3 linked regions of the Homo sapiens genome follow. The protein of the gene in region 1 interacts with the protein of each later gene in a pairwise test. Each region holds a gene or a part of one and is shown in the gene's direction. Other genes may lie near its edges. The genes, in order: ACOT1, HAO2 and HSD17B4.

Evidence for each region.
Region 2: the proteins of ACOT1 (region 1) and HAO2 come close enough for resonance energy transfer, tested with the Homo sapiens proteins (one large-scale study listed by BioGRID).
Region 3: the proteins of ACOT1 (region 1) and HSD17B4 come close enough for resonance energy transfer, tested with the Homo sapiens proteins (one large-scale study listed by BioGRID).

What each region holds. Positions count from the first base shown.
Region 1 is NC_000014.9:73,540,068-73,544,370, forward strand, and holds the end of ACOT1 (acyl-coenzyme A thioesterase 1), read left to right. Parts: intron 1-1,219; exon of another isoform or gene 1,220-1,234; coding exon of another isoform or gene 1,235-1,340; intron 1,341-1,425; coding exon 1,426-1,628; intron 1,629-2,982; coding exon 2,983-3,588; 3' UTR 3,589-3,729; downstream 3,730-4,303. UniProt on the Homo sapiens protein: Catalyzes the hydrolysis of acyl-CoAs into free fatty acids and coenzyme A (CoASH), regulating their respective intracellular levels. More active towards saturated and unsaturated long chain fatty acyl-CoAs (C12-C20).
Region 2 is NC_000001.11:119,367,443-119,371,636, forward strand, and holds the start of HAO2 (2-Hydroxyacid oxidase 2), read left to right. Parts: upstream 1-1,342; 5' UTR 1,343-1,460; intron 1,461-1,503; exon of another isoform or gene 1,504-1,566; intron 1,567-2,641; exon of another isoform or gene 2,642-2,889; intron 2,890-4,194. UniProt on the Homo sapiens protein: Oxidase that catalyzes the oxidation of medium and long chain hydroxyacids such as 2-hydroxyhexadecanoate and 2-hydroxyoctanoate, to the correspondong 2-oxoacids.
Region 3 is NC_000005.10:119,500,989-119,504,637, forward strand, and holds part of HSD17B4 (peroxisomal multifunctional enzyme type 2), read left to right. Parts: intron 1-1,052; coding exon 1,053-1,104; intron 1,105-3,649. UniProt on the Homo sapiens protein: Bifunctional enzyme acting on the peroxisomal fatty acid beta-oxidation pathway.

The sequences.
Region 1 (4,303 bases):
CTCAGAAGTGGCCCACTTTTAGAAGCTAGCATTATCAATTGCTGACCAGTATGTGGAGGAAATGAAACTCACTGCTAGAAGGAGTCAACATATTCATCTGCTCTGGGCAACAATTTGTCTTAACTTACAAAGTTAAATATGTTATTCTACTTGTACATGTGCACCAGGAGGCATATTCCTTATAAGAGGAAAGCCATTGCAGATGAGCAGTCTGGATTAATTTAAAAAAAGAGCAAAGTCAACTGGAAACAGTCCAAATGTCCATCAACAATAGAACAGATTAATAAATTGAGGTATATTTCCAGCAGTCAAAGTGATTGAACTACAGCTAGAAGAATCAACATCTATCAAGATATACAAAAGAAAAGAAAAAAATAAAAAAGAATCAACATGGATGAATCTCCAAACCACTGTTGAGTGAAACAGTCAAACACTAGGAGAACACATTCAGTATCATTCCATTTAGATACAGTTCAAAAAATAGGCAAAATAAAATATTGTTTAAGGTACATAATCTAAGTGGTAATACTATGAAGAAAACCAAGAGTGATACACAGAAAGTCCAGGATACTGGAAAGAGAGGAAAGGGCACAGGGGTCTGTGGGACGTTGATGGTTTGCGGGTATCAGCACTGAACTATGTCTTAAAAGTGTTGCCTGTAAGGTGTTTGCATTCTTTTTTTTTTTTTTTTTTTGAGACAGTGTCTCGCTCTTTCGCCCAGGCTGGAGTAGTGGCACAATCTTGGCTCACTGCAACCTCCAACTCCCGGGTTCAAGCGATTCTCCTCCCTCAGCCTCCCGAGTAGCTGGGATTACAGGTGGCCGCCACCACACCCAGCTAATTTTTGTATTTTTAGTACAGATGGGGTTTCACCATGTTGGCCAGGCTGGTCTCGAACTCCTGACCTCAGGTGATCCACCCGTCTCAGCCTCCCAAAGTGCTGGGATTACAGGCGTGAGCCACCAGACCCAGCCTGCATTATTATTCTTTAATTTTGTGTGAAACACAAAACCTTTAATGTAAATGATAAAAATATTCAGTAAGTGGAGTCATTCAGAATGAGTAGCCTTTTGAGTCTGTCTCCATTGAATAAGTGCATTCTGTTGAGTGCACTGGAGAGGAATTTGTGCTCTTCTATGTAGCAGTCTTTCTTTTTGTTTCTTGGTGGTGCACCATTAAATGGATTCATTCACCAGTTAAAGGACATTTGGGTTGTTTCCAGTCTTTGGCTACAATGAATAAAGTCACTATAAACACTTGCCAGAAGTTTCTGGACGAACACAGGTTTTCATTTCTCGTGGGTAGATACCTAGGAGTGGGATTGCTGGGTCACATGTGTGGTAAGTATATGTTTAACTTGGTAAGAAACCATCCAACTGTTTCAGGAATAGCTTAGTTTTGCATTTTGTTTTGTTTCTTCCCAAGAACCTGGGCCCTTTCCTGGCATTGTGGACATGTTCGGAACTGGAGGTGGCCTGCTGGAGTATCGGGCTAGTCTGCTGGCTGGGAAGGGTTTTGCTGTGATGGCTCTGGCTTACTATAACTATGAAGACCTCCCCAAGACCATGGAGACGCTCCATCTGGAGTACTTTGAAGAAGCTGTGAACTACTTGCTCAGTCATCCTGAGGTGAGTTCTTCTCTCAGATTTATGGGCTATGATGTATCAGGTCTCTTCTTAAATGGTCTGGGTTTTCACAGAAGTTAGCTCATTCATGACAGCCATTCCCTACCCCAACACACACTACCTTTTTTAGTCACTTCTTATAGACAGTTTCTTTCTTTCTTCTTCTTCTTCTTTCTTTTTTTGAGATGGAGTCTCACTCTGTTGCCAGGCTGGAGTCCAGTGGTGCGATCTTGGCTCACTGCAACCTCCACCTCCCAAGTTCAAGTGATTCTTGTGCCCCAGCCTCCCAAGTAGCTGGGATTACAGGCACCTGCCAACATGCCTGGATAATTTTTGTATTTTCAGTAGAGACGGGGTTTCACAATATTTGTCAGGCTGGTCTTGAATTCCTGACCTCAAATGATCCACCTGCCTTGGCCTCCCCAGGTGCTGGATTACAGGCATGAGCCACTATGCCTAGCCTAATTTTTGTATTTTTTTTTTTTAGTAGAGATGGGGTTTCGCCATGTTGGCCAGGCTGGTCTCAAACTCCTGACCTCAAGTGATCTGCCCACCTCGGCCTCCCAGAGTGCTGGAATTACAGGCATGAGCCACCACACCTGGCCTCTTATAGACAGTTTCTATTCAATTCTATATTACTATATTTCCTGCTAGTAAAGATATTTGTAGTTGGTATTATGCAATTTTAAATTCCAGTATGTTTTTTCTTTCTTTTTTTTTTTTTTTTTTTAAGACGGAGTCTTGCCGTGTCAACGAGGCTGGAGTGCAGTGGCATGATCTCGGCTTACTGCAACCTCCACCTCCCAGGTTCAAGCGATTCTCCTGCCTCGGCCTCCTGAGTAGCTGGGACTACAGGCGCATGCCACTTCTGCCTGGCTAATTTTTGTATTTTTAGTAGAGACAGGGTTTCACCATATTGGCCAGGCTGGTCTCGAACTCCTGACCTCAAATGATCCACCCGCCTCAGCCTCCCAAACTGTTGGGATTACAGGCGTCAGCCACCACGCCCGGCCATGAGATGACGTACTTGTTGATGACGACTCAGTTTAGTTATGACAGTGGGAATGGGTGGCTCAGGTGGGAGACAGAAAAAGATCATGGGAGATAATGAGATTAAGGAACTGAGAAACCAGAGTAATTGATAGATCTTCCACATGGTTATCACCAAGAGTGGTGATGGACAAATTGTGGAAAGGAAGAGATAGAGGGGAGGTAAATTCCCAAAGCTGCAAATCTGGGTAAATGGTAGAACCCAGATTCAGACTCAGGTTCAACTAACTTCCAGGGTGGGCACAACTCACCATATTCCACTGTTTGTGGAGCCATTCTTCTTCTTTTTCCTTTGTCCCTTTCTCAGGTAAAAGGTCCAGGAGTTGGGCTGCTTGGAATTTCCAAAGGGGGTGAGCTCTGCCTTTCCATGGCCTCTTTCCTGAAGGGCATCACGGCTGCTGTCGTCATCAACGGCTCTGTGGCCAATGTTGGGGGAACCTTACGCTACAAGGGCGAGACCCTGCCCCCTGTGGGCGTCAACAGAAATCGCATCAAGGTGACCAAAGATGGCTATGCAGACATTGTGGATGTCCTGAACAGCCCTTTGGAAGGACCTGACCAGAAGAGCTTCATTCCTGTGGAAAGGGCAGAGAGCACCTTCCTGTTCCTGGTAGGTCAGGATGACCACAACTGGAAGAGTGAGTTCTATGCTAATGAGGCCTGTAAACGCTTGCAGGCCCATGGGAGGAGAAAGCCCCAGATCATCTGTTACCCAGAGACAGGGCACTATATTGAGCCTCCTTACTTCCCCCTGTGTCGGGCTTCCCTGCATGCCTTGGTGGGCAGTCCTATTATCTGGGGAGGGGAGCCCAGGGCTCATGCCATGGCTCAGGTGGATGCTTGGAAACAACTCCAGACTTTCTTCCACAAACACTTGGGTGGCCACGAGGGGACAATCCCATCAAAAGTGTAAATTTTATTTGATCATGTGGCCTCTCTGTTGCTAATCTCTCCTGGAAACATCTGCCACATTTAGTGTGTGTATGTGTATTCATTCTTTCTCATAACTTCTTAAAGTTTCTTCCCCTCATTATTAAAATGAATTTACCAGTAAGAATGAGTTTTTAAGATTTTTATAAACTGTATACTTTATCAGTTTGGGAAGGGAGTAACTGTAGGAAACACAAGAAGTGGAAAAAGTCTCCTCTTCCTATCTCAACACACAACTGATAAGGCTTTAGTTCTGAAAGGAAAAGTGAGTAACATCAATTAACAGTGTCTGGTACGTAAATGGAGTTCAATAATTATTTGCTGAATGAGTATAAGTGAGCCAGGCGTGGTGGCTCACACCTGTAATCCTAGCACTTTGGGAGGCCAAGGTGCGCGGATTACTTGAGGTCAGGAGTTTGAGACCAGCCTGGCCAACATGGTGAAACCCCATCTCTACTAAAAATACAAAAAATTAGCCGGGCGTGGTGGCGCATGCCTGTAGTCCCAGCTACTCAGGAGGCTGACGCAGGAGAATTGCTTGAACCCGGGAGGCAGAGGTTGCAATGAGCTGAGATTGCACTACTGCCCTCCAGCCTGGGTAACACAGCAAGACTATGCCTCAAAAATAAATAAATTAATTAAATAAATAAATGATTACCTACTGTGGAAGAAAAGCACATAATATAAAAAGTATATCA
Region 2 (4,194 bases), on another chromosome or scaffold:
AGCTTGAGCACCATGTTCCAGTGTGTGCTCATCACCAGGCTTCCTTCTGGAAGGGAGAGACAGAGTCGGAGTCTGGAAAACAGCAAGGGAGGGTCTGGATCAGGGGACTGTGAGCAGGCCAGGTGTTGTGAGAGCTGACCGAGGACATGGCCTAGAGGCTGATTATGGAGATTGTGAAAATTGCTATGGAAAAGAAATTTCCAGAACCCAGATTTTGGCTACTTTTGAAAGCATTTTTGAGGTAATACTGTCCTCTAGTGGCTAGATAGCAGGTAGGGATTACCCTCCAAATAAATAGCCAATGAGCCTTGAGTGGAGATGGTATGACAAGTCAGTGGTAAATTCATCATTTTGCTCTCTAACTACAGGTTCTAAAGGAAAGGCAAACCCCACTGCTATGGTCATCGGTACAGCTCAGGATTTCGGCCTCCTCTGCTCCGTGTGTTGGCTACAGGCTAGGTTCAAATCCCAATTCTGCTCTTTACTGCTGAAAGGCTTTGGGCATGTTCGTTAATCTCATTTTCTCTTCTGAAAAAGAGACAATCTTGAAAAGATTGACCTTCCGTGAAGATCAAATGAAGTAATGCGTGTAGTGTGTCTGGCACGTCGTAAGCGCATCACACACGTGAGCTGTGGCAATACTAAGGAGCAGTGGCAAGAGCTGGGGGAGGAGTGGAGACGAACAGACCTGGACAAATTAGTGACCTTTCTGGGACCCCTACAGAACTCTTCTGGAGAAATTAATTCTATTTTTCCATGTACTTTTAAGTTTGCTTTTCCTAGCATTTCTTCTACATTCCTGAATAATTTTCCACTCAAAAATTTCACTGGTTCTCCCTGACTCCCATATTAATCTAGACATAATTACTTCCCCAGAACAGTTCTGTGGGCAGGGAGGGCTCTACACTATGCACCCTCCAAAATCCCCAAAGCTCGGACCGTCCTGGCCTGGGTCCCCACTGCTGTCCTGCCCATGGGCTCCCAGGCTGTGCTTGCTCTTCTCCCACCCCAACCCCATCACCACAAAAAGCCCCTCCTCCAACCCGGGGACTTTTGTAATTTCCTACCTGAAATCATCCACTCCCTACCTCTAACAATCTGTGATGAGCAGAGGACAACATCAAGTTTGAATTTAGAGGTAGGGAATGGGTGATTTCAGGTAGGAAATTACAACTTCACTTTGAAGTTTAATTTTGTAATAAACTTCACTTAATTTTGAAGTAAATTTGCAAAGTCAGCAAAATTCTTTCAAAGTCAACCTTGCTCTGGCCTAGTTGCTTATTTACTGCTAAGCTGGATGTTTTCATTAAAAGATTAACTTTGAGACTTCAGCCTCTTCTTTAGCCTGAACTGTGGGTAGTGATGTGGTGTGTTTCCTAACACCTCCGGCAGTGAGCCAGGCTTTGAGTGGCTGCGTCTAAACACTTCTTTCCCTGAGGACTGGAAGACATTAGAATAAGGTTTGTCATTGAGTGTGTTCTGTGTGCTTGGAACTGAGAAGGGTGATGAAGTGCCAGATAGGATGGGAATGGAAGATATCGTGGAAGCCAACTATGAGTTTGCAAGGCAAGGACCTTGGCAAAGATGGTCCTAGGGAGACAGGTGTTAGGGAACTCAGAGGGCATGGGCAAAGGAAGATTTGGTTTCAAAAAGGATACAGACAGAGAAGGTTAAGTCTAGGAAGTTGAGTCTTAGAATTGTATGGTGGAATATTCGTGGGTGTCCATAGGAGGAAAAATGGGTTAAAATGTTTTCACTTGACAGCGTTCTGAAAACCTAAAAGGTATTGCTATTGCCTTCAGGGATATATTTAGTATTCTGACCACTGCTTCCCGGCCACAAGCAAAAGAAAACAGTGACATGGCTATGCTCCTAAAAAAGTAAAGAAGTTAATGTGTCTCAAACAATGTAGTTCCTTTGAGCAATAAGCTTATTTGGAACAAATGGGTTACAAAGTCCCACTAATGAAGAGCCTCTGATTGTGTTAAGTTGAATCTACAGATCAACCTGCGGAGAACTGCCAAGAACGCTAATGAAGACAGGGAGGTACTGGTATAAAGATAGATAACAGATCAATGGAACAGAATAAAGCGTCCATTAGCAGGAAGCAAAATCCGCAAACTTTTATTCTTAACTACTACTATATTCTGCATTTTACAAGATCCTTCAATTCTCACAAGATCCCTATGAGATAGACAGTAATAACCTAATTTAAAGATAGATGAGAATTGGAGCTTGTCTAGAATAGATTGAGTGGAACATCACTTGTGGTATATCATTTGAGAGGTAATGGGAATATTGCCAAATTCCCAGGTAACTCTCCCCTCAAAGGGACTCCTGTTGTACTCTAAATCGTATCAGCTATCAAATGATGAGCTATGAAAGTCTGTCTTCTTCGACTGTAAGCTTCTTGAGAGCAGAAACTGATGTGATAAAGGTCCCCCCCCATATCTCTAGTGTTTAGCATAATACTTTGATATATTATGTTAAATCAGGCTATGTTATAGTAAAGAATAAACCTTAACAACTTAGTGAGATAACACATAAATATTTATTTCTTCCTTACACAATATCAGCTGATCTCCAGGGCTACCCTTTTCCAAATGGCGTTTTGGGAATCCAAGTGGCCTTTCTCTTACAGCTTTGCCTTCTTGAGGATGGAGGATCGCTGTAGAGGAGGAAACAAAGCTGGAGGGTCACATACCAGCTCTTCAATCCTTGGCCTAGAATTCACACCTGCTATTCCCACTCCCAGGCCATTGGCCAGAAGAACTAGTCACAGAGCCATGCCTGTATTTAAGCAACAGCGAAATGTTAAGCATGTGGGGAGCAGTATATGCCTCCGCCACCCTGGCTGAGAGTGTGTGTCAATAAACCTTCTTGGATAAACTAATGAGTAAATCTGACAGAGGGTTTAAATTATACTATGACAGAAATACTCAAATCCTGAAGCAGCTTTCCACTTCCAGAGCCTCAGATGAAATCACACATGTCATCAACAGGAGGAATAATGAACATGGAGCTGCCTTTATTAACAATCTAGTCTATACAAGGCACTGTTCTAGAAATTTCAAAGGGGCCATACTGCTTAGTCCTCATGGCAGCCCTATGGGATGGATGTTAATATTCTCCTTTAACAAATAAATTTTGCACAGAACCGTGGTGAGCCAGTAGTAGAGCTGAGATTTCAGCCTATGTTTGCCAAGTGCCAAAGCTTATAATATAGTCTGTCTTCTCTACTCCACTGACTCCCTCAGTCATTAGTTCCTTGGGCACAGTTGATCGGTGGAAAGCAATGGCCTTCAGAAACACAGTCTGGGTAGTTGCCGTAGACAGAGAAGCCAGGAGGAAGGCAAAGAGAGAAAAAACTGCACTCCATAGCTGGGCTCTTCCATCCCCAACTGCTCTGCCTTTTCTCCTCTCTCTCCTGCTACAACCCAGTGATTGCCACTGTGAGATATAGGTACACCTGCAAGACCTGAAGTCACTAGTGGACAGAGTAGACGTCAGAGCCTGTTTTGGAGCTTTGTGTGAATTCTGATGTCTGTTTTGCACATTCTATCCTTGTTGAGCAGATGAAGAGGCAGGTGCAGTGATCTCACAGTGTCACATAGAACTCCTTTCCCAATGGCCTGGATTTTGTGGGAATTGACCAAGCTCATTTTATGCAACTCTCTGACCATTCAGAACAGAGACTTAAATGTCTCCCCCATACCAGTAACACTCCATACTGGCTCAAAGACATTGGAAACAAGTCAGAAGGATTCCAGGTCAGGCTTTGCCATTTCTGTTGCATTAGCTTGGATACTCACGTGAATTATCCGAGCTTTAATGTTTTTATCTATAACATGGGGCTCATACATACACTCTCTGATTGCCCACTGGATTGTTGTAAGCACCAAATGGAATAACGTATAGAAGAGTGCTCTGTAGACTGTTAAGACAGATTTAAACATAAGAAGTTATTTTTTAGTGATTGGCTGAATAATTAAGATTTTTTTTAACTTTCTGATTGAGTTATGATTTTTTGAGGGAAGAAAGCAAAGTTGCATATGTCCATGACATTTTAATCCTCTAAGGTCCGTGCCAACTCTGTCATTCCATAAACCACACTTGGCTGTGCCCATTTTCTTCTTTCTATAGTGCTTAAGAGCCAGGCCACTGGAATCGTGACACATTACTAGATATGTAATA
Region 3 (3,649 bases), on another chromosome or scaffold:
GCCCATTGCTGCTCTGAGTTGATGGCCACTTATTTTATTAGAGTGTTTCATGAAGTTGGGAGGAAGACAAGAAATATGTGCTGGGCAGTTTGCTGTTTCATTCACACTCCCATGGTTAGTTACTATATACTCTGAACAATGTAAATGCAAAAAATTAAAACAAATGTTTCAAAATTCCCCCTAACAATTGGAAATCGTAAATGGTGTTCATGCATCTTGGAACTTGAATCCTAGTCTTCTTAACCTTGACTTTTTCAAGCCGTATGACACAGTAAAGCTGACCTTCATTTGTCTTCTCATCAACCACCTCCCCTTCTTCTTCTTCCTTTTTTTTTTTTTTTAAAATCCTTTTGGGTTCTGAGGAAGACTGGTAAACTGGCCCTCTGCAGTGAAAGTGGGATCATTTGAGTGTATGCTTCAAGTTTTGGTTTTCCTGTCCTGTTGTTTTCCTATATACCTTGGTGCATTCTTTGTTTGATACATTGAGGTTAAGTGGCTATTAAGTTACACAGTGTCCTTAGTATCTACTCTTTGTAGATAATTTACAAAGTATTATAAGAAAGGGATATTCACATTGACAGTGCTTTCATTTTGAACATGGTTGTAAGGTTTTTCTTTGTGTTTTAGTTGTGTCGTTTGTATTTGGTATATGTGACCTGAAATTACTAGCACTGGCGCATTTGTTCATTCTTATTCAATGAATATTTATTGGATGCCCAATATGTTCCAGGCACTGTTATAAGTTCTGGGAATACAGCCTAGTTTATTGTCTCTTGGCAAATAATATGTAATTAACAGTCAACAAGGCTTTATGAACGCCAAGAAAGAACACAAATATATCTTCTCTGCTCCAGAAGAGCTGACTGTCTTGAGATTGGGGGATTGATTATTTTTCAATCACATGATTAAGAAGAAGCCAAACAGAGATAGATAACTTGGAGAGAAATGTGAGCCTGTGGATGGTAAAATGTCACTTGCGAGTAACAGTATCCATAGGCAGAACCTGTGGAGCAAGAAAGTTTGCTAATAAAATTTTGTTTACCCTAACATAGGTTCTTCATGGAGAGCAGTACTTAGAGTTATATAAACCACTTCCCAGAGCAGGTGAGTTATTGATATACTAATTCCATAATACCATACTTTTATTTCCAGATTAACCTTTTAAACAACATCAGTGTGTTAAACTGGTATAGAGTGACCTAATGAAACATATCACAAATTGTTATGCACATGTGAGCCATTAGAGTAGACTGATGTTAACTAGTATCTGTTTTGGTCACCTTAAGCTTTGTCCTTTAATAGTCTTAAAAATTTATTTCATAATTTATCTCTGTTGATGTATGTGTTATTAACAACTGAAAGGAACGTTCGTGTATGTGCTCTAGACTTAGTGATTGCATATAATCTGTTATGGTTCTTATGATTATTGTTCTTTTCTCAGGTATTTATCTTTATACTGATTTTCATAAAGCAAACAATGTTAAAAGATACAGAATTTCTTGTAATTCATTTTTTTCTTTTTTTTTGGAGAAAATAAAAACAAGTCTTTAATAATCATTTTTACTTTTCTCAAAAATATCTTACTTGTTTAGTAAATCTCTTTTAATTTTTTTCACTATAATTGGATATATTTATTTCTCTACTTTGATGTTTGAATGTTGTCTAATTATATACTGGTCATATAAGGTGGTAGAATACAAAAAGGAATGTTTTGTTAATATTTGTCATTTCATGTTATACAATGTAGAGGTCGGCAAGTAGCTAGAATCCTACTTGAATATTTTTCTTAAACCTTTTTATTTTTCTAAAAAATGTATGAGATTTTTATTGCTTGAAGCTGAATAGCTTTATTTCAGTGTAAGTATTATAGCATAAGGTTTCAAAACAGCTCTTTTTATGTGAAACAGTACACTTTGTGGTGATTGTGCATTGATCAAATATCTGCTGGATACCCAGTATTTGCAAGGCACAGTATTAGGTAGTAGGTAATTTTCTAACCTGTCTGTATATCAAAATCACCCGAGTTATTACATTATATTATCTGTTAATTTAAGTAAAATGTAGATTCTCAATCCCAACCTTGGAAATTGTGTGTGTGTGTGTGTGTGTGTGTGTGTGTGTGTGTGTATGTGTGCATGTATGTATGTGGTGGGGTGGTGGTGTTGGTGACAGTGGCTAGGAAGCTCCTTACATGTTTCATATGTACCCAGCCCTATGGGTCCACTTGGAAACCATTGTTATAAGGGAAGTAGAAATGTGCAAGATAGGTTTCTGCCGTTAGGGATTTTAAAATACGAAAAGAGAGATTAGATGTATACTCCAGAGTGATGATAACTGAACAGTGATGTGAATAGGAAGGTGTAGAGAATAACTTTTTCATTTTTTTTTACCTCCTTAGCCTCAAGTTATATTTCTCATGAATTATTTTTTCTCAGCCTGTGCATTTTCTTTAAGCAGTTTTAAAATTTACTGTGTAGTAAATGTGAATGTTCAAAATATGAGATATTTGTGGTTTGGAACCTTTTAAACTGCAGAAAACCAAGGTCACGACTACTGTTTATAATCTACTACTGTTTATAAAACACACCAATTGATGAGACACAGAGTGTCAAGCATCAGGAGACTGATAACAACATCTCTTAATGGCTCATTTGTTGGCTATAGTGGTAGTGTCATAGGCTGACTTACCCTAATCATGTTAAAAATAACCACTAGAAGGAGTGAAGGAACGCAGCAGTACTTTCTTTTCTGTCTGTTTTTTTTTTTTGGTTTTATATAAACTTTATTATTTTAAAAAAGAATTTTAACTTTTATTTTAGATTCAGGAGGTACCTGTGCAGATTTATTACGTGGGTGTATTGTGTGATGCTAAACTTTGGGATATGAATGATCCCATCACTCAGGTAGTGAGCATAGTACCCAATAGGTAGTTTTTCAGTTCTTGCTCTCCCTACTCTAGTAGTCCCCATTGTCTGTTGTTCCCATCTTTATGTCCACGTGTACCCAGAGTTCAGCTCCCACTTGTAAGTGAAAACACACAGTATTTGGTTTTTTGTTCCTGCATTAATTCACTTAGGATAATGACGTCCAACTGTATCCATGTTGCTGCGGAGCACATGATTTTGTTCTTTTTCATGGCTGCGTAGTATTCCATGGTATATATGTACCACATTTTCTTTATCCATTTCACCATTGATGGGCACCTAGATTGATTCCATGTCTTTGCTATTGTGAATAGTGCTGCAGTGAGCATATGAGTGCATATGTCTTTTTGGTGGAATGATTTCTTTTCCTTTGGGTATATATCCAGTAATGAGATTGCTGGGTCAAATGGTAGTTCTGTTTTAAGTTCTTTGAGAAATCTCCAGACTGCTTTTCATGGTAGCTGTACTAATTTACATTCCCTCCAACAGTGTATAAATGTTCTGTTTTATCTGCAGCCTCACCAGCATCTGTTATTTTTTTGACTTTTTAGTAATAGCCATTCTGACTGATGTGACATGGTATCTCATTGTGGTTTTGATTTGCATTTCTCTGATGATTAGTGTTATGAAGCATTTTTTTTATGTTTGTTGGCCACTTGTGTGTCTTCTTTTGAGAAGTGTCTGTTATGTCCTTTGCCCATTTCTTAATGGGATTATTTGTTTTT